3 separate regions of the Homo sapiens genome follow, and regions 2 and 3 are each linked to region 1. The links come from fine-mapping of genetic effects on gene expression. A gene starts in region 1. Each other region holds a variant in brackets. All regions are shown on one strand. Distances are from middle to middle.

Region 1 (9,854 bases):
CACAGAGCAGATTGTCCTTTATGGACCAAATATGTCTATCTGGTTGGGCGCAGCGGCTCACGCCTGTAATCCCAGCACTTTAGGAGGTCAAGGCGAGCGGATCACCTGAGGTCAGGAGTTCGAAACCAGCCTGGTCAACATGGTGAAACCCTGTCTGTATGAAAAATACAAAAAATTAGCCGAGTATGGTGGTAGGTGCCTGTAATCCCAGCTACTCAGGAGGATGAGTCAGGAGAATCACTTGAACCTGGGAGATGGAGGTTGCAATGAGCCGAGATCTCACCACTGCACTCCAGCAAGGACATAAGTGCAGAGCAAGACTCCATCTCAAAAAGAGAAGAGAAGAGAAGAGAAGAGAAGAGAAGAGAAGAGAAGAGAAGAGAAGAGAAGAGAAGAGAAGAGAAGAGAAGGGAAGGGAAGAGAAGAGAAGAAAAAAGAAAAGAAAAGTAAAGAAAGAAAATCCGTCTATCTACACATCACACTTTGCAGTGAGACTCCCACGGCACCTAGCATGACACAGGGAGGGGTCCTGCAGCTTCCAGTCCATGTCCTGGACTGGATAAACAACATCCATGATCTAGCCCTGGAGCTGGATCCTGTGTGACGAGGTGGACACCTGTCCCTTTGGAGGGGCAAAGAAGGGAGGCAGTGCAGCTGCAGGTGGGCTGCCCTGTTCTTCTCAAGATCTACAGAGACAGACATCTGAGCCATGTCGAATGGGCCCTGCTGCAAAGCTGGGGACTGGTTAATTTTCAAAGGGTACAGTGTCATGACAGCAGCAGTTTCTGGACCTGCGGAAGCTTCCAGATCCTGCAAAGCTAGAATGGGTGCACAGCTTAAGCCCCTCCCCACCACCTCAGCTGTGACCACTGGTTAACATGTAGCATGCAGCACTTGGTGCTAATCAGATGGAGTCATGCCTCTGCTGACAACCCTCCATGGCAGGTGTCCCACAGCCCTTAGGACCAAAGTTAAACTCCTCACTGGGCTGCAAGACCTGCCTGGCCAGGGCCTTGCCCAGCTCTGCCCGCTTTGTGCCATCTCCACACTCTCTCCCCTTGAATGTCTCCTGCCACAGGCTTCTGCACATGCTGCTGCCACCCCCCTGGAGCTGTGGGGCCAGGAGCAGCCACCAGGGAAATCTGATCCTTGACCCTGGGCTCCTGAGTCTGCCAGAGGCTGCCGTATCAGCCAACAGACAGCTTCTGCAACAGACAACCGAACCCCGGGGGTACCCAGGGCCAGGTGCTGATGGACTGGGACTCGGGAGAGTTCTCACTCCCTGCCGGGGACCTTGGCCACATGCTGCCATTCCTGGCCCTTCGTTCCTCATCTGTAAGATGAGCATAAGCACAGCTGCCTTGTGGGACTCTTGTAGATTCTGTCCCCTAGTATGACAATACTTTGTTACCTTGGACCCATGGGGTTTTGCTGTCAGTACCAGGATGGCAACTAAGGACATGCCCATGGTTGGCCCTCACCGACGAGGTCCAGCCTTGGGTCGCCAAGCAGCCGCCTGCTCGCTGCCAGTGAGCCCTCCCTTTCTCAGCCCACGGCCCCTGCCCCGGTGGACTTCCACCACCTGACCTGCAGGCACGCTTCCAGGAGCTCAGAGGCCACTGCCCTGGCGGATGACACCCTGGAAGCACACACTCCCCCTTGACAGAGAGCTTTGCACATCAGCAGAGGGCAAGCCAGCAGCAAACTTCGCAGGCCCTGGCTGGCAAACAGACTCCAGCCTGGACCCCAGGCCCATAGGAGAAGCTTCACCCTGGCAGGGTCAGGGAAAGCACTGGGGTCCCTGAACACAGATGACCGTCATCACCTGCTCCCAGCACTCAGGGTCTAACTGCTGCCCTGTACTGAGCGGCCAAGCCCTATCACTCCAGGTTGCCTCCTCCAGCAACCCCTTCCCGTCTGAATTCCCAGCTTCCCAATTCTTTCCCTGAGGCTGTGGGAGAGCCTCGGCTTCTCTGGCTGGCTGGCAGGTCAGCACTTGCAGGAGAGAGCAGCTCAGCAGGGCAGACGTGGGCTTTACAGACCTGCCTTCCGTCCTGCGCCCTGCCGCTGGCCTGGGGGACCCAGTGCAGATGGGGCTTCTCTGTGCCTCAGTCTCCATCTTGCAATGTGGGCACAGTAATAATTACCCTCAGAACATCTTCCGGATCAGAAAATGTAAAAAGGGACCTGAGACAGCATTGTCACCACATAAATGGTAGCTATGAACTAAGATCCATATGCACCAGATGCTCCCAGTAGTCACTAAGGCGCCAGAGAGGAAACTCAGGTGGTGCTCAGAGACATTTTCAGGAGCACTGATTTGTCCTCAAAGTTACAGATTTCTACTCAGTCCCTGCGCCAGCGGTGTTTCTGTTCTGTCGTGTGGCCCTCATTTCATCAGCACTGAAGAAGGTAAAGAGAGACTTCCTGGAGCTGGGAATGGGGGTGAGGGTGTGCCCTTTGTGACAGTTGCTCCCATGCTGGGTGTGTGACAAGGTCTTCGTGGCCAACAGAAAATTGCTTCATCTCTCTCATCTGAGCGTGGTTTCCCAGAAGAAACCTACCACCCCCGGGAAGCATGGATATGGGGCTGTTTCTGGCCAGGATACTCCCAAGAGAAGAGTCCTGAACTTGCTTCTACCCTCAGGACGCCTGCGGGAGACTGGCTGACAGCATTTGATTGAAAATGCTTATTTCTGGGACACATGGATGAAAAACAAGTTTTCTCTCCCTAAAACCTTGGGAGCCCCAAAAAACCCAAGAATATCACTTTCCTATGTCTGCTGAGTGTACGTGACCACTCTGCACACCCCCACATAGCCTTTGTCCTTGTTCATGAGAATGTTCACTAGGTCTTTCAACACCTGGTTGACCTGGGTGGTGCATCTGGGTCACACACCTGTGTGGACCCTGGTCCTTGAGAGTCTGGGATATGGGTATGCCAGGTAATGTCTTTGAGCCCGGAGGTCCTCATGAGGATGTAGCCCCTGAGCTCTGCGTGGGCAGCCCAGGGTCAGCTTCCCTCACCAAACACAACAGGATGACAAGCTTGGATGTGGCTGCCTGCACACCCCACGAGATATGCAGGATATTACGTGTACAGGTCACCCTATAAACTCTGAAACAACATAAATGATAGCTATTGCTGGCTAACATGTGCAAGAGAAGGTGAGGTTGCCGTGTGCCAGTGGGAAGGATATGTGGGTGTCTGGAGGGTGGGGCAAAGTTCACCATAGGTGCCTGGCTAATCAACAAGGGTGAGTTTAAGAGAAGTTTGTGAAAGGGCCAGTTCCCGCCTGATCTCCAGTTCCCCTGCCTAATGAGATCTGGGTTTGCTTTCCGGAGTGGGTCCTCCTGGGCGCCCGCTGCCACAAATAGCACAGTGGCAGGCACAGCTGGCAGCGGAGGGCAGGCAGTGGAGCGGGCATAGCACACATTGCGTTCCCGAGGAGGGGAGCCCTGATGTGCCGGCACCCAGGGGCTTTGTGCATTCCGCTCCGGCAGCTCGAGCGTCACGGCCCGAACAAAGCGGCTTTGCAGGGCGCTCTCCTACTCCTCGCCATTGGCCACCGGGCCGCGACCTCTCCTTGCTCTGGCAGAGTCCCAGCGCCTTGCGTAGGCACAAAGTCAGCCCCTCACCCCCCAGCGCATGAAGTAGGGGCGGGCATGGCTCTTGGGCCGCTGGAGAGGGGTGGGGTTGTGGGGTCGGAGCTGGCGGCGCCTCCCCGAGCCCGTCCGCGTTGCCCTTCACCCTCCTCGTTCCCCCGCCCACCACACCGCCCTGGCACCTCCCGCCACCTGTTTCCTTGTCCTCCCAGCTCGCCTTCCCCTTCTCCTTATTTTGCATCCTGGGGTTCCAGGGACAAGGTCCCTCCCGGGCCGCCTCCCACCCTACGCACTTCTGAGCCTCAAGGGCACCCGGTCCCGGGTCCCGGGTCTAGACCGGCTCATCGCACAGAGTAGCAGAGCCGGGCTCATCGAGGAGGCAGGAGGGGCTCGCCAGCGTGGCACGGGCGCCCGGCGGGAACCTCCACCCGCCCCGCGGCCGCGCGTCCCCGCCTCGAATTCAGCCCCGCCCCGGTGCGCCGGGCTGGAGGGGCGCTGACGCTCAGCGGTGTCCCATCGGTGACCTTGGACGGTCCCTCCACCTCTCCGGCCTCAGTTTCCCTTGGCTGCAGCGGCCGCGGGGCGCTAGGTGGGAGCCGCTGAGCGCTCCCGGGGCCCCGCCCACCGCGAGCAGCCAATCGGGCGCCGCCCTCCGGGGGGTGTGTCCCGGGGCCGAGGCCCGGGGCCCGGAGGGCGCGCGGGGCGGGCGGGGCTTCCGGGTCGGGCCTCGGGACACTGGCTCGCGCGGACCGGGGCAGGGGGCGGGCCGAGGGGCGGTGCGTGTCGCGGGGGCGCGGCTGGCACGGACGCGCGGAGGCGGCGCCGGGCATGGGCCGTGGACGCGGCGGCCCCGCGGCGGGGGCAGCGGGCGGCGGGGGCGGAGGCGGCCGCTAGCGCCCTGCCCGGCGCCGCCTCCTTCGGCGTTCGCCCCACGGACCGGCAGGCGGCGGACCGCGGCCCAGGTGCCCGGGGGCGGGCGGGCGGGCGGGCGGGAACGCGCGCGGGGGTCCGCGGTCCGGGCTTCCCAGGTCCCGGGACCCGGAGGGCGGCGGACGGGGGAGGGGCAGGGGCTGGGCGGCGCATGCGCGGGGCCCGGGGTCTCGGGGTCTCCGGGTCCCGGGGACCCGGGGGCCCGGGGTGCGCGGCTGGGGACCTGAGGGCGAGGAGCGAGGACACACACCGAGGACTCTTGCGAGGGATCTCGGGGCCCAGCTCGGCCTCCCTCCTAGCGCTGGGGGCCTGCCCGGAACCCGAGTCCGCGGCTGTCCCTGGGGTTTGGCGCTGCGCGGAGGTCGGGTCTGGGGACCGCAGCGACTCTGGGTCTTCGGGTTGTCCCCTCGGAGGGAGGGCCCACGGGCGGGGACATCGGGACTTGCCCTTTCCTCGGCGCAGCGGAGCTGGGGCGTCGCCGACTCAGAAGGTGCTTTCCGAGACCTCCAGGGATCTCCGAGGCGAGGAAACCCGGGCCCCGGACAGACCGACCCTGGGTGGGTGCGCCCGGCTTCTGCCGTCGGACGGAGACGCGCGTGTTTGTTCCTCCAGCTGCGACCACCTTTGAGGAACGGTTCCCACTTTGTGCCCCAACGCGGCGGGGCGACCCCGGACAGGCTGCGCTGGGCCGGGTGGCTTCTCTGCGGAAGCCGCGCCACGTCGCTCCCGGTCGGGGCCGCTGAGGGTCGGGCGCCCAGGTCTTTCCGGAGTCCCGGGCTGCGCGGCCCGCGTGGTGCGGGTGAAGCTGGAGGGGCGCGGGGTGGTGCCAGTGGAAGTCAGGAGGGTCGGCCCTGCCCCCTCACGCACCCCAACCGGGCACAACTGCACGCCTGTGCTTTTCTGAAGTCTTTTTTAAAAGTTAAAAGAGAGGAAGTGTGCTCCAAGTGTCAGGATTCTTTCCAAGAAAAACCCACAGTTGTCCAATGGCCTGGGCTTCGTGGGACCTCCGGGGCTGCACGCCCACGTCAGCCTCAGCCGACCCCTGCCAGGAAACCAGGGAGGCCCCTCCTCTCCCAGCCTCCTTGGGATAAGGGTGCCTTGGGGAACTGGGTCAGGGCAAGGACACGGGATTTTCCTGGGAAGGACCCTGCGACACCCGTGTCGTTGCGGGGCAGGGTCAGCATGACTTTCCTCTTCCAAGGTGAAGAGTTGGGGGGCATCCAGAGAACAACCGTAATCACTTCCTCCTTCACCTTCTTACTGCCAGGCTGAAGCTCAGGGCCCTGTCTGCTCTGTGGACTCAACAGTTTGTGGCAAGACAAGCTCAGAACTGAGAAGCTGTCACCACAGGTAAATAGAAGGTTTAATTTACTGTTTCCAGATGGAAATATTTAAGTGTTTTCAGTGTTTACTTCTGTTGCACTACAGACCAGCAATCTGGGGGTTATTACTTTGTGATGCAAGGTTAGATACGTTTTCAGACTGAAAGTAAAATACATGTGCATGGATTCATTTTTTTTTTTTTTTTTTTTTTTTGAGACGGAGTCTCGCTCTGCCGCCCAGGCTGGAGTGCAGTGGCCTAATCTCAGATCACAGCAACCTCTGCCACTGGGGTTCAAGCGATTCTCTTGCCTCAGCCTCCCGAGTAGCTGGGATTACAGGCGCCTGCCACCATGCCCAGCTAATTTTTGTAGTTTTAGTAGAGGCGGGGTTTCACCATCTTGGCCAGGCTGATCTTGAACTCCTGACCTCATGATCCACCTGTTCCTCCCAAAGTGCTGGGATTACAGACGTGAGCCACCGTGCCTGGCCTAGGATTCACTTTGAAGTTCTGAGTTATTGTGTGACTTTTGCTAGGAACTTCATTGCTTCGTGGCAGGCATGTTTTGTATAATTTAAAACTTGATGACATTAACTTTGAGAAACGTGAGTGCTTACTAGACCCTTGGGATGTCCACACTGACTGGTACCGAGTAGTGTACTGTCTCTGAGCTGTTTTCATTTTGATTTGAATATTAAGCAGATGGCTTCTTGAGATAGACCCGTGCCAGAACATGCCAGGGATAGGCTGAAGAAACGGGCCAGATGATACAAATTTGTGTGGTCACCATCCATGAGAGACCAGGGACACTGGGGCTGATGATGACCTCTGCAACTCTGAAGCAAAAGTAAACTAATTGGCAAGTTGGGTGCGGTGGCTCACTCCTGTAATCCCAGCACTTTGGAAGCTGGGGTGGGCAGATCGCTTGAGGCCAGGAGTTCGAGACCAGCCTGGCCAACATGGTGAAACCTTGTCTCTACAAAAAAATAGAAATATTGCCTGGGCATGGTGGCGGACATCTGTAATCCCAGCTACTCAAGAAACTGAGGCAGGAGAATCGCTTGAGCCTGGGAGGTGAAGGTTTTAGTGAACTGAGATTGTGCCACTGCACTGCAGCCTGGGCGCCAGGGCGAGACTCCGTCTCAAAAATAAATAAATAAAATAAAATTAATTAACTAATTGACATTAGAAAAAAATGTTTTTTCTTTCTTTTCCCACATCCTTTTTTTTTTTTTTTTTTTTTTTGTGACAGAGTTTTGCTCTTGTCACCCAGGCTGGAGTGCAGTGGCATGATCTTGGCTCACCGCAACGTCCACCTCACGGATTCGAACAATACTCCTGCCTCAGCCTCCCGAGTAGCTGGGATTACAGGCACTCACCACCACACCCGGCTAATTTTTGTATTTTTAGTAGAGGTGGGTTTCACCATGTTGGCTGGGCTGGTCTCAAACTCCTGACCTCAGGTGAACCGCCTGCCTTGGCCTCCCAAAGGGCTGAGGTTACAGGTGCGAGCCACCGCGCCGGGCCCTTTTCCGACATCTTAAACGTAAAGTAGGAGACGTGTCATAATCATCGAATACTGCAGTGGTTTTCATTAGCTCCTGTTTGTCAAACTTATGAACAGAGTTTTAAAAATTGTGTATCAGCCGGGTGCGGTGGCTCACACCTGTAATCTTTGGGAGGCTGAGGTGGGCAGATGACAAGATCAGGAGTTTGAGACCAGCCTGGCCAATATGGTGAAACCCTGTCTCTACTAAAAATACAAAAATTAGCTGGGCATGGTGGCGGGTGCCTATGGTCCCAGCTACTCAGGAGGCTGAAGCAGGAGAATCTCTTGAACCCGGGAGGTGGAGGTTGCAGTGAGCTGAGATGGCACCACAGCACCCCAGCCTGGGTGACAGAGCAAGACTCCGTTTCCAAAAAAAAAAAATTGTATATGAGAGAGACAGAACTAGACAGAGAAGAAGGAGAAAATGTGTCTTCTTTATACACTATTTTGTAACTTGCTTTATCGAGTAGGTTATGAAAAATCTTCCTATGTGAAAAACATTTCTGCATCATTTGAAATGTCTATATAATATCCCATTGTGTTTAGATACAATAATATTTAGCCAATCTCTTTATGTGTATATATTTAATACAGTCATTCTATAAATATTGACTGAGTAGCTGCTGTGGGCTACTGTCCGCAGTGCTGAACAAGACAAGCATGAATCCATGAAACTGATTTTCATACCAGAATATAAAAAAGAAACTTAAAGATAATCCTCATCATGGTAAAAGATGAAGAACCTATTTTTGCCGGGACATCTTACTCTTTAGTAATTGGTGGCCAGTGTTCTTTTTCTTGCATGCTGTTTTGGAGAGTCTGTTTTTTAAATAAATATTTAAGTAGCCTGGGCGCAGTGGCTCACGCCTATGGTTTCAGCACTTTGTGAGGCCGAAGGGGATGGATTGCTTGAGCCCAGGGCTTCAAGACCAGCCTGGGCAACCTGGCGAAACCCTGCATCTACTAAAAATACAAAAATTAGCCAGGTATAGTGGCGTGTGCCTGTGGCCCCATCTACTTGGGAGGCTGAGGTGGGAGGATCCCTTGAGCCTGAGAAGTGGAGGTTGCAGTGACTGAGATGGCACCACTACACTCCAGCCTGGGTGACAGAGTGAGACCTGGTCTCAAAAAATAAATAAATATTTATGTAATCATCTTTAAGCAGTGTTTTTAATTTTATTTATTTATTTATTTATTTTTGAGACAGGGTCTCACTGTGTCACCTAGGCTAGAGCACAGCTGCATGATCACGGCCTATTGCAGCCTCGACCTCCCTGGGCTCAGGTGATCCTCCCACCTCAGCCTCCCAAGCAGCTAGGACCACAGGCACACGCCACCAGGCCTGACTCATTTTTGTATTTTTTGCAGAGACGGGGTCTTGCTATGTTGTTCAGACCTGTCTCAAACTCCTGGGCTCAAGCCATCCTCCTGCCTCGGCCTCCCATAGTGCTGGGACTAAGCCATGAACCACTGCACCCGGCATAAGTGGTCTTTCTTTAAAAAAAAAAAAAAAAAAAAAAAAAAAAAAAAAAAAAAACCACATTAATTAAAATATGTATTTGCTTATTATAAATATATTTGAAACATGCCAATTTTTCTTCTCTTTTTTTGCTCTATTGGTTTCTGTGTGTGGATGGATATATTTTTAATGGCAAATAGGATGAGTGTCTTTACTTCCAAGTAGTCAGTGTTTTTCTTTAATGTTTGTACTAATTTTGTCACATTGCAGTTAGAGGTTGTGGCCTGTCTAATTTCTGCTTTTTTGGAACTTGAGAGTCTCTGTTTTTATTTGTTTTTGGTAGCCTGGCATAGAGTCCATTTTTCTTTTCTTTTCTTTTTTTGAGACGGAGTTTAGCTCTTGTTGCCCAGACTGGCGTGCAGTGGCGCAATCTCAGCTCACTGCAACCTCCGCCTCCTGGGTTCAAGCGATTCTCCTGCCTCAGTCTCCCCAGTAGCTGGGATTACAGGTGCCCACCACCACACCTGGCTATTTTTTGTATTTTTAGTAGAGACGGGGTTTTGCCATGTTGGCCAGGCTGGTCTCGAACTCCTGATCTCAGGTGATCCACCCGCCTCGGCCTCCCAAAGTGCTGGGATTACAGGTGTGAGCCACTGCGCCCAGCTGTAGATACTTTTTAAAAAGGTATAGTTTCTGATTATGGGGTAGAAATGTGCTATGTCTGTCATTTCAGCCTTATGAATTGCCCAGAATAAGCTAGATCACCTTTAAGGCCATGTGGTTAGGGAAACTTGGGCACAGAATTTACATTTTCAACTTGGTGATAAGATGGGTTTAAGGTAAGAATCAAATAGGAGAAAGCCTTAGCTGTTCCAGCGGCCCATGTTTAAAAGAATGTGCTTCTTTTTCCAAGTATTTCTGCCGCTTGCATGCACTGAGCTTCTTTGGAAAGGAGCACCATGCAGGCATATTTTCCAGACAGGACCGGA
Region 2 (9,854 bases), 95 kb after region 1:
TGGAATTTCTTACCAACCAAATATTTGCATCGAGCAAAGGGGGCTGTGTGCACCTCCCTAATGGCAGCGATGATGGCTGCTGTCATTCAAGCCCATCTTCAGACGTCACAGTCTGGAAGTGAAATGTCCACAAACATCTGTGGCAGAAAAGGCTATACGGACCACCCAGTTGTGCTGCAGCTTTACAGAGCAAGGAAGGGTTGTGGCAAATAAATGATTAACCTGCCTCGACTGTGCTGAGGGCAACAAAGGCCATCTCACCAAAGGATTATTCGATGCCATTAAATCATCCCGTGACCTTCCTGCTTCCGAGTCCATGGCCTTTGCCCAGGGCATGTACTCCCCTGAGAGGCCTTCTGCCTAGAAAGATCTATGACTGGGTTCCAAAGTTGAGGCCTAGGTTTTTGCTGGGATTTAGATATTTTCAGGCACCATTTTGACAGCATTCAGGAAAACGGTTATTGACCCCATAGACTAGGGTAAGAATAAAGGCAATAAATTTGGTCTGACTCAGAATATAGGAGATCCATATATTTCTCTGGAAACCACAGTGTACACTAAAATGTGAAATTGAAGGTTTTGTTAAAAAGAAAAAGATAATGAGCTTCATGCTTTGTTTAATTACATAATGATTTCCATTACGCTATTTCTGTGAAATGCAGCAGGTTCTTAAACGTTATTTCAGTGGCATGGGCTGGAAGCTTATCACAAAAAGCCATGTGTGTGGCCTTATCAGAACAGAAAGAGACAGGCTGGTGCCCAAGGCTGCTGCCTGCTCCACCTTTTGCCAGCTCTGGACATCTGAGGACGTCCCGGCAGATCTGGAATGGGGCCCTCAACTGACCATTTGCTTCTCAGAATTTCAGTTTGAGACATGAGAGGTATAATCAGTTACTTTTCTCCCCCCAGAGAAACCCTTTTGTGAGGGGAGAGGAGCTATGGTATGTGGTTCAGCTGAAACACATACAACTGCATCCTTTTGGAGTCCTTTGCCAACAAAAACAGACCAACAGACCAGATGGTGTCCATGTTCAATATCATGTCTTGATGGACGCAGCTGATGACCTCAAATACTTGAGTGGTCTCATGGCTGTTAGATGGATTATTTGAAAAAAAAAAAAAAAAAAGAGAGAAAAAATAATTGATTTTTACATCAGAGATAGCAAACTAAGACCTGGGGAGGGGGGTCAGCTTTTATTTTATTTTATTTTTTTTAAGTTTGCTAGTTGGGTCAAATGTGAGGAGGAGGGAGTCTACCTGCCACCTCTTCTCTTGCCCCTCTTCTGCCCACACATCCAGCATCCAAAATCCATTCATTTAATGAATTGATAAAGTGCCGTGCAAACTGGTGCACAAACAGGCCCCCAGTCCACGCAGCCTGGCTCCTAGGAAAAGTGGTGACCGGGCGTGGGGGGGCATGCCGCAGCCCTGGGACACAGTCGGGCACCTTCCCCGGACCCCCAGGCCTTGGCTGTGCCTCAAGTCAGAGAGGGTCAGCCTTCAGGCCCCGGAGACGAGTGACTGGCCGATCATTTCACAATAAAATCACTCACTTTTGGCAACTTCACTTTTTTTAAGGCACAGTCAGTTCCTTTTCTCATGTACCTCACAAAAGATGAAGACCATGTAGTACTCTTTTTGGTAAAGTTACAGTGTTCATGTTAAATATCACTTTTTTCTACATTGTGTGGTAAAAAGAACTACGTTAATAGCTATATCTTAAATACTGTGATTTGACTTTTTGAAAAATATCCTAATACAAATATTTTACTAACTTACAATCACTCATTTAATAAGAAACATTTGGATTCTTTTGAAATCAGTGTTAATTGACTCATATTCTTAAAAGCCTGGCTCTTGACCCTATTGGAAACACAAAGGAAGCTGAAATCAAACATCTAAAATACACTGCGTACACGTGTGCGTGCACACACACACACACACACACACACACACAGCTCTTCATTTCTCCTGAGCCATGCAGAATTTACTTTCAATGTGGAAATCTGTTCCCTTTACCACACTGTATATGCACAGAGCACAAGAGAGGCTATCTCTAGTCACTTCCACCAGCGAGGCCTTAGACTCCGTATTAGAGGCCACCGATTTCATACAACAGTGTTTCGCTAAAGACCCTTCACTATTCTTGTTTAGTAAATAGCTGTCTGCTCTTCAGGGAACTGTTACCTATGGGTTATTACCAAAGAACGCTGGCAATTGGAAATGTCCTGATGGAAATTCTTTGCACGTGCCGGTTCTCTGGCATCCTCCAGGTGGCCCAACCCAAAGCAGAAAGCAGAAACCACAGACCCCGTGAGTCTCCCCATACCTTGTTTCCAATAACTTGGCAAAACTTCTTGGTGCATATTGGTTACACCCTCTGGGATTCATAATGCCATTAGGCTAAAACCCTAAGAGAGAGGGTTGACAGAAACACACGCGAGAATGAGGCAGATCCCAGAGCAAGGACTGGGCCCAGACTCTCCACATGTGCTCTACTAGTGAGTGCCTTATACTCTCAGTATTTTGGGGCTTACAGCTTCTTATTTGTGCTAAAAAGGTGCAGTTCCAAAGTAGGAACTGCCACACAGGCCCCAGCATCCTCTCTCCAACTTCATACCTCTCTCCTGGTGGGGGGAGCGGGCATCCAGGACCTCCGGAATCAAGGATGTGCAGAGAAGAGCGAAAGTAATTTTTCTAGTCACATGAACTGATTGGTTCCAGGCAATTAGAAAATGGCTATAAAATAACCTTAATTTTAAAAAAAAATCTTGGGTCTTCGTTTTCCTATTAGGAGACTGAACTGACCACATGTATTGATTTATATCCTGAATATATGGGAACTTCTGTGTTTGGGATGTCCTACTGTAAGACTGATGAATGTACAGAGTTAATTTCAGGGTACAGTTTTGCCTTAATGGTTTTAAAAAATAAACTATTTTTTAAAATTTTTTGGTGAGTTTTGAGTGATGCTGCGAGATGGACTGTTTGGTCTAAAAGAACCAAGTCCCCAGCTGTGGGGTCCGCCCTCCGCCAGAACAGTCCCTGCGCCCCTCATGGAGGCTGTCTCCACCTGCACAGTCCCTTTTGTGTCCTTCAACATACAGAATGGATCAAGGACAATCTGGCTCCGGAATACGACATCCTTTCGTCTGAAGTCACATACAACGGGAACTTTTAAAGCAGTGAGCATCTTAAAGTCCATCAGTGCACAAGTCAGTAAAAACTCTTTATTCATTCCTTCATGTGACAGTTGGCCTTGAGTAGTTACAAAGACAGAGCAGTTCCTGCCTCTCAGAATTCTAAGCAGACATTCCAGAGCTCACAGATCAGTGTCCCACCAGCTGCTACCCTGGAAGCTTCAGGGAGATGGGGAGCCTGGAGTAGGGGGGTGCTGCAGGAACCCCCGGCAGGCAGTGGGGCCAGGCTTCACAGGCACCCAGGGCTGAGTGCGAGATGGCAGGGGGCAAGCAGGCAAGCAGTGGGATGGTCTTGAGGTGTGGGGTGAGGGCAGGAAGCCCACGGTATTCCTGACTTGGAGTCGAGGGAGACAGAACGGAGGGGCCCGAGCTGAAGACAGAGTCTGAGGGAACTGGAGAGGCTAGAAGCCAGCACTCAGCTTCCCAGGAGACCCCAACTATTGCCGGGCCAAGTGTCCAGGGAGAACGTCGGGTATCCAAATGTTTCAGTGGAAGATTCCTTTTCCAAACATGAGCTGGTTCTTTGGGTTTTTAATTATAAACATAATACATGGTCAAGGTTAAAAACATTTTCCAAGCACCACATAAGGATATGAAATAAAAATTCTATCCCCCTCTAGACCTTCCAGACTGGGTCCAGAAGGAGCTGCTGTCAGTGATTTTCCTTACAGAGAGACCATTGCAGCCACCTACAGTGCACCATGGCCCCGACACAGTGTGGCATCTCCCCCCACACGCACCTGCACGCAGCCTCTTAGGAGCTGCCCTGCTGAAGGAGGTCATCCCTCTCAGTCACATCTGAGCAGCACTCACTCAGGCCTGGGCCCTGAGGGGCATGTGGGGGGACCTGGCCGGGTTCCTGGCTGTGTCTTGTCTGGCATCTGCCTTTGGACTACCCTCTTGCTACAGCTCCCTGGGCCTGTGGCTGCTCCAAGCTGGACTCCAGCTCCCCTGGGCTGCAGTGCTGCTCCCAGTGGTCCAGAAACAAGGCCAGGCATGGCGGCTCCCAGCTCAGCAGCATCCCTGGCGCAGGCTGGCCCAGGAGCTCTGTGCAGGGTGCCGCCCGATGACCTAGCCCCAGTTGCACTCACGTCCGAGAACCGGGCTGGCTGGGGGTCCTCTTTGATGGAGCTTTCCTTTTCTCCAAGTCTTGCCGAATTTCCTGAGGAAAAGCATTGATGTTCTCCCGGACACAAGGGAGGCAGAATCTCTTGGAGTAGAATAAACTGCATTCCTTAAAGAAGTGGACAAGGATGGAGGCTTGAGTATCCTGGGAACATGGTGCAGCTCCTCCCAGGGGCCAGCCCTTCCCACACTTGGGGGGCTGGGCTGGGGCCCCAGCATGCACAGTGTGGGCAGGTGGCCAGAGCTAGACCAGCAAGAGGGAGAGCCAGGCCTGAGGGCCTGGCAGGGTGTCCAGGAGAAAAGCAATGCAGGCCTGGGCTACCCTGGGTGGGAACAGCTGGGATGGGACAGAAAGACTCTGGGGCCTGCTCTGCTCCATCACGGGGCAGTGACAACAATGGAAAGCTGGAGCACAGGCCATGCCCCGAAAATCCCAGAGTCCTCCCGTCCCAGCTATCGCAGCACGAACAGTGGCCACCTGGTGCTGGGAGCGGCAGGGGACAGGAAGGACAGCCCCACAGACCAAAGACGCCATGGACGAGCCAGCTAGTCTGGGCAGGAGGCCAGAACCGTGCAGCCATGTCCGCTCTCCTCTCTCTTACACACTAGAACTCCCGAGATTCATCACGGTGCACAGCACGTGGCTAAGGATGACATTCCCCAGCCCCCTCTGTAACTGGGCATCGCCATGTGACTCAGGCTGGTTAGGGGCGTCAGCAACTGTGTGTGCCACCTCCTGGTCATGCCCTTTGAAGGCATGGACTGTGCTCTCACGTCCCTTCCCGCTGCCTGGGATGCAAATATGATGGTGGGAGCTCCACAGCCACAAGGGACCCAAATAGAGACTCTGCTGAAGACAACAGGGGTGCCCTTCCAGCCAAGGCCACCAGTTCTGGACTCTTACATAGGAGAAAGTAAGTAAATAACTATTTGCTTTACTTAGGCCACTCTTAT[T/C]TTTGGTGTCTGTCTGTTCTTAAAGCTTAGTGTGCTCGCAAACATAAGGCTGCCCTCCTGCAGTTCTTAGAAAAGACCCTTCGCCATGGAGATCCGCTCACTAACAACCTACTGTTTAAACAAAGAAAGCTGCAGACTTGTGGTACCTGCGTGCGCCCCCCACCCCCGCCACCCCGCTGCTCACGAAGAGCAGCCCAAGGCCAAGGTGTTGCATTCAAGACCTCCACCTCCCCACCTGGCCCACCCACCTTTGCAGTCTTCCTTTCCCAGCTTCTCCTGGACCACCAGCTCCTCCATGAGCCTCAGATACTCCCATGCCACACTGCGGAGGCTCCTCCCACCCTGGCCCATCTCGTCCCCCTGGCTATTGATACAGCTCCCCTTTGTGTGTGTCAACCTGTGGCAGATGCTCAGGGACTTCTCAGACTCTGGGGTCACTCTGAGTACACTGGGCACGCTGTGAAAGCCATGCTGCTCCACTTCCATCCGTCCTTGGGTTTACAGCTACCCAGGTGAACCTGGCCCACCCAGCCTCTCTGAAGCTCAGTTCCCTCATCTATAAAATGGGTGGAATATAATACTGCTTTACCTGACTAAGGGGCAGGACTGAATGAAGCCTCAGCAGTAAAACAGGTCCCAAGCACAGGACCTGGCACACAACAAGTGCTCATGAAAGGACAGTCCCTTCTCCTGGAGATCCCTCCAAGAACATCTAGAAAGTAAGTCACCATCCTGGTGAGAGGGCGCACAAGGACTGTCTGCACTGTTGGTGGGAAGGGGAGGAACCCTGAGGGGCCACTGGGGTGGGTGCAGAGCCACCAATTACCTATTTCCATTCCTACACCAGGCTGAGACCCTCTAACTGACCCTAGCTTGCCCTCTCACCTCTCCCCTTCATCAGCTGAGGGGCCCCATCTATAATGGGGTGAACCCGCTGCTCCCTCTCTCCCAGCCCTCCCTACCCAGGGAGAGCTCCAGGATAACCACAGCAAGGACAGGTGGCCCCAGCCCACGCTGCTTACCCACCGGGCCCACACACACCAGCCTGCTGCACAAACTGCAGCACGAGCCGAGGACCAGGAATCTGTCCTTGTCGGAGGTGAAGGGATCCTTCATGACATAGCTTTCCTCCAGGAGGCTGCAGGAGAGTGAATGCAGCGTCAGAACAGCCCAAATCTCTGCCGTCGGAAAATCAGCCATGACCTATGGCCAGGCAGCAGCAGCCTGCACCTCTGCAGGGCCTGCATACCTGCGTGGGCTCATCAGGGCAGGGGACTAGGCCACCCGTGCTGCAGGGCAGTGACAGAAAGGATCAGCAATTGGGGGCCACACTGGCACTGAAATTGAACCTGCTCTCACCTCTGTAACAGCCATGGTAGAGAGAACCCCTTGTTCTCAGCCAAAAGCAGGGCTGCTGCAACATGGGCCCCCAGACCCTGACTGATTCACCACAGTGGGGGCACAAGGCTGCCACCTGAATACCCCAGGCCTCCCTACACCCCAAGCCACACCCTCACAGCCCCTGGAAGCCAGCTGGCCTCATGCTACACATCAGAATGAGACCCCAGGGTGACATGATGACACTCAGGCTCCTGGTCAGCAGAGGGACGACAGCCAGAAGGAAAAAGCCATGCCCCTGCCACTGCATCCCATGTGAGTAACACACCGGCCAGCTTTCCAACAAAGTGGCATTTGATGAAGGACAAGCTGGAGGTCAAGAGATAAGCCCCCTGACCCACTGGCTCTAATCCAGGTCTGCAGGGGAGACAGGCCTCCCATTAAGAAAGTGTCATGGCAAGGGTGCAGCCCCAAAGGGGGAGGCCACCACAGGTCCCCCAGCTGCTGAGCTGCTCCCCCACAGCTAGAGCAGGTATTGGACTCTGGGCTAGGTGTGGAGGAAGGTTCTGGAAGAGTCAGACCTCAAGCCTTGCCCAGGCCTCCAGAGATTACACCAGAAGCATTCAGAGCCTGGCCAGGGTGGGGTCTAAAGCTCCACACCTGAGACAGTTGTCAGACCTAGGCACACCACCCACCAACCAGCACTGGGCACAGGCCTCCCCGGCACTGGCCCAAAAGGCATGCACTCACACCATCGACTGGGTGTTGGGGGGCTTCTGTCCCACATAGCTGTACGGAGCTGTCAAGGTACAGAGTTCACACTCAAACACTCCCAGAGGACGGCACTCTACATGGGACGCCATCTGCAAGATCAAGAGATGGGGTGTCCCTGGGTCACAGGCTTTCTCAGGAATCCTGCCCCTTTCCCAGCTATGAAGACCCTAACCATATAGTCCTAGCACAGTTTCTTGCCTCCCTACCGTACCCTTTTCTCTATCCCCAGCTGAAACAGGTTTTCACCGGTGCCCAGAGTGACAGGATTTGCTGTCCATATTCCAATGGTTTAAGGTTTTTGTACTGCTAGAGAGAAGGATCCAGACAGGATCAAGCCAGAGCACCCATCTCTTCTTCCAGGTCTGCACCACGGTAAAAGCGTTCCGGTCTCCTGCTCTGCCCCATTCTTTACCACAAGCCCCCAGTGAACGCTGGTGGAGAAGGGCCCAGAGTGGGTGCAAAATCTCCTGTTTCTGCTGCTCCTAGAAGCTCTATGCCCTCACATTAGTCCACACGTGGTGTGGACATTAGAACTGTTTTCTTGGCCAGGCGCAGTGGCTCATGCCTGTAATCCCAGCACTTTGGGAGGCCAAGGCAGGCGGATCACGAGGTCAGGAGATCGAGACCATCTAGCTAACATGGTGAAACCCCGCCTCTACTAAAAATACAAAAAATTAGCCAGGCGTGGTGGCGGGCGCCTATAGTCTCAGCTACATGGGAGTCTGAGGCAGGAGAATGGCGTGAACCCAGGAGACGGAGCTTGCAGTGAGCCGAGATCGCGTCACTGCACTCCAGCCTGGGAGACAGCGAGACTCCATCTCAAAAAACAAACAAACAAAAAAACTGTTTTCTTATCTGCTTGTATGGAACCCCCTTCTCATGTTCATGGTTGGGTCTTGGAGGCCTCTCTTTCCTTAGATTTCTGGCTAAATGGCTGCCATCTGATGGGTTCATCAAAAGTTACAATTTTGCTGATTACCCAGCTCCTTCTTTGACTATGGAATCAAGTACGACATTATCAGCTGGCCCCTAGCTCTTGGCTGTGACCTCCCCTCGCCTGAACTGAGCGTGGTGTATAAAGGCGTATCAAATGCGATGGCTTTCCCCACTGGGTGTCCCCAGATGCAACTCCAGGAAGCATGGGTTACCAGTGACTTTAAAAGTTAAGTCTGGCCCGGTGTGGTTGCTCATACCTGTAATCCCAGCACTCTGGTAGCCAGAGGCGGGCGGATTACCTGAGGTCAGGAGTTCAAGACCAACCTAGCCAACATGGCGAAACCCCATCTCTACTAAAAGTACAAAAATTAGCCGAGCATAGTGGCGGGTGCCTGTAATCCCAGCTACTTAGGAAGCTGAGGCAGGGGAATCACTTGAACCTAGGAGGCGGAGATTGCAGTGAGCCGAGATTGTGCCACTGTACTCCAGCCTGGGCGACAGGGCGAGACTCCTTCTCAAAAAAATAAAAATTAAAATTAAATAAAATAAAATATTAGCCGGGCGTGGGGGCGGGCGCCTCTAATCTCATCTACTCAGGAGACTGAGGTAGGAGAATCGCTTGAGCGGGGGGTTGGGGAGCGGGGGCTGGGGGGGCGGAGGTTGCGGTGAGCCGAGATCGCGCCACTGCATTCCAGCCTGGGCGACAGAGCGAGACTCTGTCTCAAAACAAAAGTTACGATCGATCGCGGGTGTGCGTGAACCTGATCCCGCTTCTCTTCTGCACGCCGGGGCGTCCTAGGCCCCTGCCGAGGCTCCTGGGGGCGGTGCCTGTGAACAGGGACGGCTGAGAGGGTCCGGGGATGCTGGTGGTCCCCGCGAGCCTCCGCCTGCCCTCTCTCGCCCCAGCGCTGCCCGAGGTCAGGGGGGACAGTCCCGTGAGGCCCACACCCCGCTTCTCGGTCCCGTCCCCAAAGCTGAGAGCGGCTGCGCCGACTCCTGGCGCTTGGAACCCAGCAGGCCACGCCGGCGCGGAACTCAGTCCCGGCGAGCGGGAGGCACCCTGAGGCAGCGCAGGGAAGGGCCACAGCACGCTCGCCCCAGTCACTCTGCCACCTCGAACTCACCGCCGCCCTCGTCCCACGGCTCCGCGTCCAAGGCGCCTGAGCGGCCCCGCCCCACCGCGGCCCGGCCAACCCCGGTGCAGCCGCAGACGCAGGCGCGGAGCGGGAGGCGGGACCTCGCGGTGGTTTTCCGCCTCTGCCTTGCTTTTCCGGTCGCCGCGGTCCTCTGCGCGGGATGTGGCTCTGAGCTTCGGGGTAGTCCGCGAGGCTGGGTTCCGTGCTGAGGGGCGTCGCGTCTGGCCGTGCGCTGCGGGAGCGCGCGGGCCTGGCCCGCTGTCCTGGCCGCTGCGAGGCGCTCAGCTTCTTTCTGAGTGTTCCGCCGGGTTCGACAGGGTCGAGGTCGCCGGCGCGAGGCTCCCGGATAGCTGAGGGGCGCGAGGGCGCCTCCAGTCTCCCACCTGCCCTC
Region 3 (9,854 bases), 990 kb before region 1:
GTGTGCTTTACCTAAGTGTTCACACTTAATCTGTACAACCAAATGAAGGTACATAATACACCCTCGCTTTACAGATGAGGAAACTTGAGCTCAGAGCTCAGTTTGTCCAAGGCTGCCAAGCTGGTAAGTGATACGGCCAGGAGATTAACTCCAAAGCCCCACTGCCAGGCAGATAACAGAACATTTCCTGTTTTCATTCCTTAACATTAGGAGCAAAGTGTAGTTCTGTAGGCTTCCTGTTGGGTGTTTTCTGGTAAATCGTAACAGGAATGACTCCAGGTCGAGGTTTAAGCCTACCTAAAATGAAGGCCAGAACACAGCTAGAACACAGCAATATTATCTTGCCATTTTCTTTGCTAGGTTAAACTGGGCTTGAATGATCTGAGACATTTATGACCTGATCACTGTGGCAAAACTGATACAAAGCTGGCTCCTGGCATGGACCTCTAACAGCAGAAAGAAAGGCAGGATCACATCACCATGGACTCATTTGGAATCAGGTAAAGTAGGTAAACTGACATGTCTGGGTATTTATTTACTGAACATGATGACAATGACCCAGCCTAACAACCATCACAGTCCTTTGGCTCTCAGGGGTTAAGCAAATTGAAAGGGATTTTTGAAAGGCAGAGTATAGGAAAAAAGGGCTAACACCTTTGGAGGAGTATTTCATAACATGAGACTTGAGCTTCATTAAAAGGAAGTAGCCAAATTCAATGGAGGTAGATGTCTGCGTGCAAAGTGCCTCCATTCTTCTGAGTTATAGCCAGTTTAAAGTTGTCATTTTAGCCAGCAATGAAATCCATCCAGTAAGGCGCAAGACAGCTACAGTGCTATCATATACATAAATCTTTTTTATTTGCATTAGAAAGGCATCAGTTATTTCAATGCTACAATGTGTAATTAAGTAAATGTGTTAATCATTTGGCTTACCCTTACAATACTGTATTATTCCAAGAATGAAAGTTCTGATTTTAACTAAGCCACAATTCAATGTTGAGTACAAGAAAGTCTACCTCTACCTAAGCTGCCTCTATCCCTGACATGGTCACAACCTAGAGATCAAGCAGCCAGTTTGTCAGAGGCATTGGAACCAGAGCAATTCCATCTTGAAGAGGCAGTAGGTAAAATCAGGCAGAGACCTGTTGGCTGCATTCTTAGTAGTCACAAGATGTTTAGGGTTACAGGAACAGATTAATAACGTTCACTAAACAAACCCAGGACTTAACAGACCCAGGAAACATTTTGATGTCGCTGTATCTGTTAGTCCAAACTGCACCATTTTCTTTCTTTCTTTTTTTTTTTTTTTTGAGATGGAGTCTCGCTCTGTTGCCCAGGCGGGAGTGCAGTGGGGCAATCTCAGCTCACTGCAAGCTCCGCCTCCTGGGTTCACGCCATTCTCCTGCCTCAGCCTCCTGAGTAGCTGGGACTACAGGCACCCGCTACCACGCCCGGCTAATTTTTTGTATTTTTAGTAGAGATAGGGTTTCACCATGTTGGCCAGGATGGTCTCGATCTCTTGACCTTGTGATCCACCCGCCTCAGCCTCCCAAAGTGCTGGGATTACAGGCGTGAGCCACCACGCCCTGCCAAACTGCACCATTTTCTAAGCCCCCCGCCATTTCGCAGACACTGGTCAAAGCGAAACATTCCACGGGGGTTCAGGCCGTGAGAAATTTCCTGCCCAACTTTCTTACCAAACCCTGTTGGGTAAAGGCCCAATTGAAGGAACATCCCTATCAAACCTTGCTCAGCAAAGGTGCAAGGAACATCACTGTCACTTTCTGAGGGAACAAGGGCCAAACTGCCTGATCATAGAACGTTTTATGGATAGATATACTGGTAAGTATATTCACATGGCAAGCCATACTGCCCATTCCCCTCCTGCCCTATAAGTACCCCAGCCTGTAAGCAGCAGTGGGCTCTGGCATTAAGCTGATCCCCCATCTCTGTAGGTTTTTGCCATATACCTGTGTTGCTGTTGAGCTGCCCTTTGTTTTTTTTTTTTTTTTTTTTTTTTTTTGAGACGCAGTCTCACTGTATTACCCAGCCTGGAGTGCAATGGCGTGATTTTGGCTCGCTGCAACCTCTGCCTCGCGGGTTCAAGTGATTCTCCTGCTTCAGCCTCCCAAGTAGCTGAGATTACAGGCATGTGCCACCACGCCCCGCTAATTTTTGTATTTTTAGTAGAGATGAGGTTTCACCATGTTGGTCGGGCTGGTCTCCCACTCCTGACCTCAGGTGATGCACCCGCCTCGGCCTCCCAAAGTGCTGGGATTACAGGCGTGAGCCACAGCGCCCGACCTGTGTGTCATTCTTTAACTCTCGTCTTCCCTTCAAAACCTAACAATATCTTAAGATCAAAAGCATTCTTCATTTAGGTTTCGCTTTAAAGATAATATAGATCTTTGCCAAAGTCAGTAAACAAAGATGAACAATCCTTGTGTCAGGCCTCTGAGCCCAAGCCAAGCCATCGCATCCCCTGTGACTTGTACGTATACGCCCAGATGGCCTGAAGTAACTGAAGAATCACAAAAGAAGTGAAAAGGCCCTGCCCCACCTTAACTGATGACATTCCACCATCGTGATTTGTTCCTGCCCAACCTTAACTAAGTGATTAACCCTGTGAATTTCCTTCTCCTGGCTCAGAAGCTCCCCCACTGAGCACCTTGTGACCCCCCACCCCTGCCCACCAGAGAACAACCCCCTTTGACTGTAATTTTCCATTACCTTCCCAAATCCTATAAAACGGCCCCACCCCTATCTCCCTTCGCTGACTGTCTTTTTGGACTCAGCCCGCCTGCACCCAGGTGAAATAAACAGCCATGTTGCTCACACAAATCCTGTTTGGTGGTCTCTTCACACGGACGCGCATGAAACCTTGGTCGTGGGCCCTCGTGGTAGAGCCCATGTCCCCCAAGATTTCTTTGGCTGTGTTACCTTAGATTTGAACAAGCACTGTACCTAAGGCGGGCGCCTTCCTCCTCCCGCTTTCAGGAATGCCCTGCTCTGCCATTCTTTTGCTTTCTCACTTCTCTAATACACTTGCTTTCACTTTAGTCCGTGGACTCGCCCCGAATTCTTTCCTACGCGACATCCAAGAAGCCTCTCGCTGGGTCTGAGTGGAGACCTCTTTCTGGTAATAAACGGACTAGGGAGATTCGACTTTGAAGGTGAAAACAAAAACCACCATCCAGTTTATAAGAAGGCGCTCGAGGCCGGGAACGGTGGCTCAGGCCTGTAATCCCAGCACTTTGGGAGGCTGAGGTGGTGGGGCGGGGGGAGGGAATCACCTGAGGTCACGAGTTCGAGACCAGCCTGACCAATATGGTGAAAACCCGTCTCTACTAAAAATATAAACATTAGCCGGGCGTGGTGGCGCACGACTGTAATCCCAACTACTCGGGAGGCTGAGGCAGGAGAATCGCTTGAATCCGGGAGGCAGAGGTTGCAGTAGGCCAAGATCGTGCCACTTCACTCCAGCCTGGGCGAACAAGTTAAACTCTCCATCTCAAAAAAAAAAAAAAAAAAAGGGCGGCACTGGAAACAGCTGGGAGTGACAGGGCCAGGGATGAGGGATCGCAAGCTGCTGGTGAGAAAGGAGCTCAGAGGCTGCCTGGCCTACGGGCCAGGAGACCTCAGCGCAAAAAGCGCAGGACTCGTTCCCCTGCTCTACAGCTGAGTGCCCAGGACGGATCTCACTGGCTGAAAAAAACAGAAGAGAAGGCACCCAATGCAAAATCAAATGTCAGCGAACGAGGGGTCCTTTAACAGGCGGCCCACACGGCCCCTCCTGGCGCCGAGACCCAGCCCCTCCGGGCCACCCCGGCCAGGTACGACCAGCAGGGTCACCTGCGCGCGTCCCCCGAGACGGGGCCTCCTGATGTGAAGCGACCCCAGTGGCACCTCACACGATTCCCGAGGGTTGCGGGCGGCCTCTCCTCAGCCCTGCAGCTCCCACACGCGGACACCGCGGGCCTCGGCCATGTCCACTGACCGACCTTCCTCGCCGGAACTCCTCGCGCATCGCCGGCCCCTCAGCGGCGACTAGCGCGCGAACATCCTGGAAGACGCGTTGCCGGCCCCACGTGAGCCGACGCCCCAAAGCGCGGCTGCTGGCGCCGGCTACGAGATCAAGGTCGGCGCGTGCGCGCTTGCGCGAGACCGGCATTCTCAGCCCCGCGCCGGTTTCCAGGGAGCTGGGCGCATGCGCCGCGTAAGGGGCCCGGCCGGCGGAAGGAGGTGCTACTGCCGGAAGCGCCGGCGCGCTTGCGCAGTAGCTGAACGCGGGCGTTTCTTTCCTCCCTTTTTTTCGAATTGGTTTTGGGGGTAGATTCGAGTTACAAAATGGCCGCCCGGAGCGTGTTCGGCGCGGTTCCCCCAGCTGTCTCTGGCTGAACCGGCGCTCTCGCCTCCCTGCCGAACACAGCGTGAGGAGCCCCCCCAGGGATATGGTGTTTGAGTCTCTGGGCTTGCCGAGCACTAAGTCCTCTGAGTTCCGCAGCGCAGCACCGGAAGCGGCCGAGCGCGCTCAGCCCGGCGACCCCTGCGGGCTCCAGACCCCTGCGCCGCTGCGCCCCGGGTTTCGCCGCAACCAAGACCCAGCGAGTGCAGCGGCGGCCGCCGAGGAGGTGAGGAGCGGCGGCGGGCGCGGGAGGAGAAGAGGCTGAGGGCGGGAGCCTGGTGCTGAGAGCCCAGGGCCGGGAGGGCGGGAGCGGGCTCGGGCCTGGGAGGGGAGTGCGAGTGCAGGGCTGGGGACTGGACCCTGGGGAGGGAGGTGCGGGTTCAGCGCCGGGGGACGGGCCCCTGGGGAGGGGTGCGGGGCCGGGGGACCAGACCCTGGGGAGGGGCTTAAGGGGCTGGAGGACGGGACCCTGGGAAGTGGGGTACAGGGCTAGAGGTCGGGACTCTAGGGAGGGAGCCTGGGTCGGGCGCACGGGCCGGGCGGGGCGCGCGGTGGGGGAGCGACGGGTGGAGGGTGGGGTGGGATGACAGCGGCGACGCAGCCCCGGCTGTTTTTGAAGCGGGGCCCGGGCCCCACCGGGCTGCGGCGTCCGACTCGAGTGAGACTCTCCCCTGCGGCCCCGCCGGAGGTAGGGGGCTGGCAGGGCTGTCCTGGCGTGGTCTTCTCCGTTTCCTTCCTAGCGATTCCTCTCGAGCTTCCTCTCCCCCTGGCCGCCCCTCGTCTCTCTTCTCTTGGGCGCATTACCTCTCTGGCCTGTCTTACTGCGTTCCCGGGTTATTCATCACCCATTTGCTCGGTTCCATTAAGAACCAGCTTGGAGATTAGGTATTTCTGTCTCCTTACTTGGCCCCCTTGTTGTTTTCCTCCAACAAGGCACTTCACTATTAAGTGTAGCCAAATCTGTGTTTTCGTTTTAAGGTGATGTTGACAAGTTGAGCTTTCCAAGGGCAGAGCTACACCAGATGCCAGAGACCACATAACTATATCAGGCA[C/G]AAATAATGTTTTTTTCCAGTTTACCTAGACTTTCAGTCTCCCACCACGTTGCTTCATACCTAGAAATCATGTCTAATTTGGTTTTTTACCCACAAACGCAAACGTTTTTTAAATTCCCTTTTATTGATTGTTTGATTGAGACTGGGTCTTGCTTTGTCACCAGGCCTCAGTGTAGTGGTAGCTCACTGTGTAGCCTGAAGCTCCTGGGCTCAAGTGATTCTCCTGCCTCAGCTTTCCAAGTAGCTGGGACCACAGGCGTGCGCCACTACGCTCGGCTAATTTTTTATTTCTATTCATCTAATCTATGTCCATCTTTATTTTCGTAGAGACCAAGTTGGTTTCCAACTCCTGGCTTCAAGAGATCCTTCCGCCTCCCTTAAGTTCTTCATAACAGTAGCTAGACATAAGACTCCAGGTGCCAGGCCTTGTTCTGAATATTTTACAGAGGGTTTTTTCTCCCCCCCACTTCTAGCATAAAAGTAAAATGTATTGTCTGAAGTGTCATGCTTTGAAATAAAATAGGGATTTGGTAAAATATTTGTAAAAATCTGGTTTGTAATCCAAGTTATTCTTCTTCCATGCTACAACTTTTACGTTTTGGAGGGAAAATGATAGTTTATAGCCTTTGCTTCTAATAAAACTTGTTTCTTTAATAATTTATTAAGCCCTTCCTCTGCTCCAGGCACTGTTCTAAGCCAGTCTTTGTTTATCTTAACTTTCTTAATACTTCCTGTTCCACAGATGAAGAAACTGAGGCACAAAAATTAAATATAACTTGCCCAAGTTCTCACAGCTAGAAAATGGCAAAACTGGGATGCCAGCATCTTTTAGTATTTTTTGAAATACTTTATGCTCACTGGGGAAATACTTCCCCAGCTCACTGATCTAATGACAGACAGGACACCTGCTGTTTGAGCTGGGCACTGTTGGGGCATTTGGAGTATATCTGTAAACAAAACAAAGATCCCTGCGTTTTGGTTATATACTGATTTGGTGAGTATGTTAGGACGTGGAAGCCCCTACATTTATTTAGACTATTTTACTGCGTCACCTGTCTCTTCATTGTGGGTATGAGTTAGAAGTTACAATTTTACTATTACAGTTTTTGTGTATTCAGCTCCATCCCTTTTTTCTCCACAGCTAATTTTTTTTTCTTTTTCTTTTTTTTTTTTTTTTTTTTTTGAGATGGAGTCTTGCTCTGTCACATAGGCTGGAGTGCATTGGCGCGATCTCAGCTCACTGCAACCTCCACCTCCTGGGTTCAAGAGATTCTCCTGCCTCAGCCTCCGGAGTAGCTGGGATTACAGGTGCCACCACCACGCCCAGCTAATTTTTTTATTTTTAGTAGAGACGGGGTTTCACCATGTTGGCCAGGCTGGTCTCAAACTCCTGACCTCAAGTGATCTGCCCACCTTGGCCTCCCAAAGTGCTGGGATTACAGGCGTGAGGCACTTCGCTGGCCCCACAGTTAATCTTAAATAGCAAACGTGACCGTTGGTGACTTCTTACTTCTCCAACCCTCTGGTGGAGACATTAGTTAATGAGTAGGAAAATTGCCAAAAAGAATCCGTACAGAGACCTGGTTTCTGCACAGTAAAGAATTATGTCTATTCCTGTATTTGTTTTTGTTTGTATGACAAAGATTAATGGCAAAACTTAACCAAGTGTTTTTGGGTGGACATTAAAAAGAGAGGGTTCCCAGCGAATGGAAAGTGTATTTATTTCTCATCCTTTATATTTTAGAATCTTGGACTTTAATATCATTTGTAATCAGAAAAATAGCATAAACTTACAAAATTTAAAAATCACTAAAATGTATTAAAAGCTGACAGCCCGTATGTAATTACTCCACTGGCCATCAAATTGTAGAGGCCTTTGGAATACCAGCATTTGCATTTTACTTTTAGATACTAAAGAGTGATATGTCACCTCATATCTTAGCGACCACTTTGTGGGGTTGTAATACACTCTGTATTACACAATACACCAGAATAAGGAAGCTTACTCTGGTGTATTGTGGTGTTGAGAGCAAACAAGAGTGGGGAGAGTATCACGAAGGAGTTCAGGCAGGTTTAACAAGACCTGGCAGGTCCCCAAAACTAATCAGTAAGTTTTTGGGCGAGGTGGGTAGCAGGGGAAATGGAAAGGTTTTTTGTCCAGCTGGAGAGTTAGTGAAGAAGGCAGCACAACACTCATAGCGGAGCTCTGGGTTGTGGGTTTTCTTTGTTTTGTTGTTATGATATTAAGATCAGAAAACAAATCGTAAATTTTAAGGGATGGACAGGAGCACCCTCTTTGGTTAGGTGCCGGAATCCACTGCAGAGTTCACGCCGTTCCCCAACTCCTGCCCCTTCCACTAATGCCATCGTATTGAAGAGTTAAGCCAATGATTTGTTTTTGAAAGGTTATAAGTTCCCAGAATACTAACACACCCATGTTAATCATTTTGGACTTCTAATTGTCTTGGCAATATACAATTTGAAGCAACAAAATGTTCAGTCTTGGGAACCATGTATCTCTGTCGGCTGTAGCTTAAAGAACAGTATTCGTGTTGTGGAGGCGTTTCCAGCCCGTTATTCGTATTCTTACTGAAAGATACACTTCTTTAATGGGTCATCTTTAAGAGAATTTTAAATATTAAAATTATTTTCTTTATGACAAGACTTTCAGTATGTATATGCGTAGAATAAGTTAAGGACTTTTTGATTATATATACAGTACTTCAGATTCCAGATTTTTAAAAAATCAATTGATATTTCATTTTAATTTTTCCAAATGGAGTCGGTTTAGTGTTGTTCAGGACTGCTGGTGTTCCCTAGGAATCTTCTTCTGCCTCCTGGAAAAAGCCTTTATTGATTTGTAACACTGGGAGCCTAACAGCACCAATGTAAAGTTCTCATTAAAGCAGTTTCCAGATGCTTTTTTTCCCTGATAAAAAAACCAGAGATGTTTTTATCTCACTTCATGCTAGAGTGAATTTTTAAAATTCTTTATAAGAATTTATTCTTCTAGAAAAATAAACTCTTCTGTTTTCTATAACTTAGGTTCGAAAACATGGCCAAAAGAAATGCCGAGAAGGAACTGACAGATAGGAATTGGGATCAAGAAGATGAAGCTGAAGAGGTAAAAAGCAGCTTCCCTAAGAATGATTTCCTGTTTCTTTTGCCTTTTACATTCATTTTGGGGTTCCTCATGAAGACTTGTGACAGAACTAAAAGACCTTTCTAAGAACATCATGAATGGGAGATGACAAGAAATTATATGACCTGTACTTAGTGTAGATATTTATTAATTACATTTCTGTGACCTCTAGTTAGTGTAGAAATGTATTAATTACATTTAGATGTGCTTTTCCACTAGTGCCTGCTCCTTAAATATTCTCCTTAGTAGAAGCACTTTTCCTCCTGAGTTTCGTATACTTGAAGCATTCTGAACCCATGTTTGCAGTAAGCCATTTTAGTCATGACTGAAGGCTGAGTTAAGTGATGTAGTCATGAACTTAGCACACTGCCCAGATGTGAAAGTGGTACACCATCACCATCTTGGTCTGTGGTACTCCGTTTCCCTAATGCTTCTTGGAGGCCTGCTTTATTTCCTTTTCTTAATGGTAGACCTGAGACCCCTAACAATTGCATTTATAGGAATAGAATTGAGATTGGCCTAGTTCCTTTTCCAGCAGAATAAAAATGGTCTCCCCTGAGGAAATCTGATCATTTTTCCCTTATAAACAGTAGGACTGGGCAGCATAGAGAGATCCCGGTCTCTATAAAAAAAATTTTTTTTTTTTTTTTTTTTTGAGACAGAGTCTCACCCTGTTGCCCAGGCTGGAGTGCGGTGGCACAACCTCGGCTCACTGCAACTTTTATCTCCCGGGTTCAAGTGATTCTCCTGCCTCAGCCTCCCGAGTAGCTGGGATTACAGGTGTACACCACCACACCCAGCTAATTTTTGTATTTTTAGTAGAGACAGGGATTCACCATGTTGGTCAGACTGGTCTCAAACTCCTGACCTCAAGTGATCCACCCGCCTTGGCCTCCCAAAGTGCTGGGATTACAGGCGAGAACCACCGCACCCAACCCCCCAAAAAATTGTTTTAATTAGCTGAACATGGTGGCATGAGCCTATAGTCACAGCAATTTGGGAAGCTGAGGCGGGAGGTTTGCTTGAGCCCAGGAGTTCAAGGCTGCTGTGACCTGTGATTGCACCACTGCACTCCAGCCTGGGCAACAGGGTGAGACCCTGTCTAAAAAACAAAGAATAAAACACAGCTGTACTTATAGGATGTGGGCGAAGGATTACCCAGGTGCCGAGGCAAGAGACTGAAGGCACAAACTGTTTCAGTATAATACATAAAATAGTTAGAATAAGAATAGTCATAATACAAATTAGATACAGA

Which allele goes with the higher level. Alleles are on the strand shown, and positions count from the first base shown. SD is a standard deviation of normalised expression in the study named. Not every link is listed here.
With allele G in place of C in region 3, the expression in left ventricle of the gene that starts at base 4,442 in region 1 is lower (small effect, 0.28 SD a copy in GTEx).

The links. PIP is the estimated chance that this variant, and not a neighbour inherited with it, causes the effect.
Region 2: its variant is fine-mapped to the expression of PPARA in lung (TOPMed, PIP above 0.99).
Region 3: its variant is fine-mapped to the expression of PPARA in left ventricle (GTEx, PIP above 0.99).

What each region holds. Positions count from the first base shown.
Region 1 is chr22:46,146,085-46,155,938 of GRCh38, forward strand. PPARA (peroxisome proliferator activated receptor alpha) reads left to right here and starts at 4,442. Exons shown (of 9, transcript NM_005036.6): 1 at 4,442-4,568; 2 at 5,804-5,886. RefSeq lists silencers at 3,903-4,512, 4,663-4,782 and an enhancer at 4,993-5,182.
Region 2 is chr22:46,240,805-46,250,658 of GRCh38, forward strand. It overlaps PPARA (peroxisome proliferator activated receptor alpha), which reads left to right. Exons shown (of 9, transcript NM_005036.6): 9 at 1-2,951. It overlaps CDPF1 (cysteine rich DPF motif domain containing 1), which reads right to left and starts at 9,489. Exons shown (of 4, transcript NM_207327.5): 1 at 9,452-9,489; 2 at 7,368-7,480; 3 at 6,306-6,417; 4 at 3,209-4,434. The coding sequence starts at 7,480. The coding sequence ends at 4,288. RefSeq lists silencers at 9,068-9,237, 9,348-9,677 and an enhancer at 9,272-9,779. The variant T/C (reference allele first, on the strand shown) is at 5,280.
Region 3 is chr22:45,159,666-45,169,519 of GRCh38, forward strand. NUP50 (nucleoporin 50) reads left to right here and starts at 4,260. Exons shown (of 8, transcript NM_007172.4): 1 at 4,260-4,631; 2 at 8,503-8,581. The coding sequence starts at 8,513. It overlaps NUP50-DT (NUP50 divergent transcript), which reads right to left and starts at 4,116. Exons shown (of 3, transcript NR_038956.1): 1 at 3,912-4,116. RefSeq lists silencers at 43-337, 3,772-3,821, 4,592-4,821, 4,852-5,031 and an enhancer at 4,189-4,711. The variant C/G (reference allele first, on the strand shown) is at 5,458.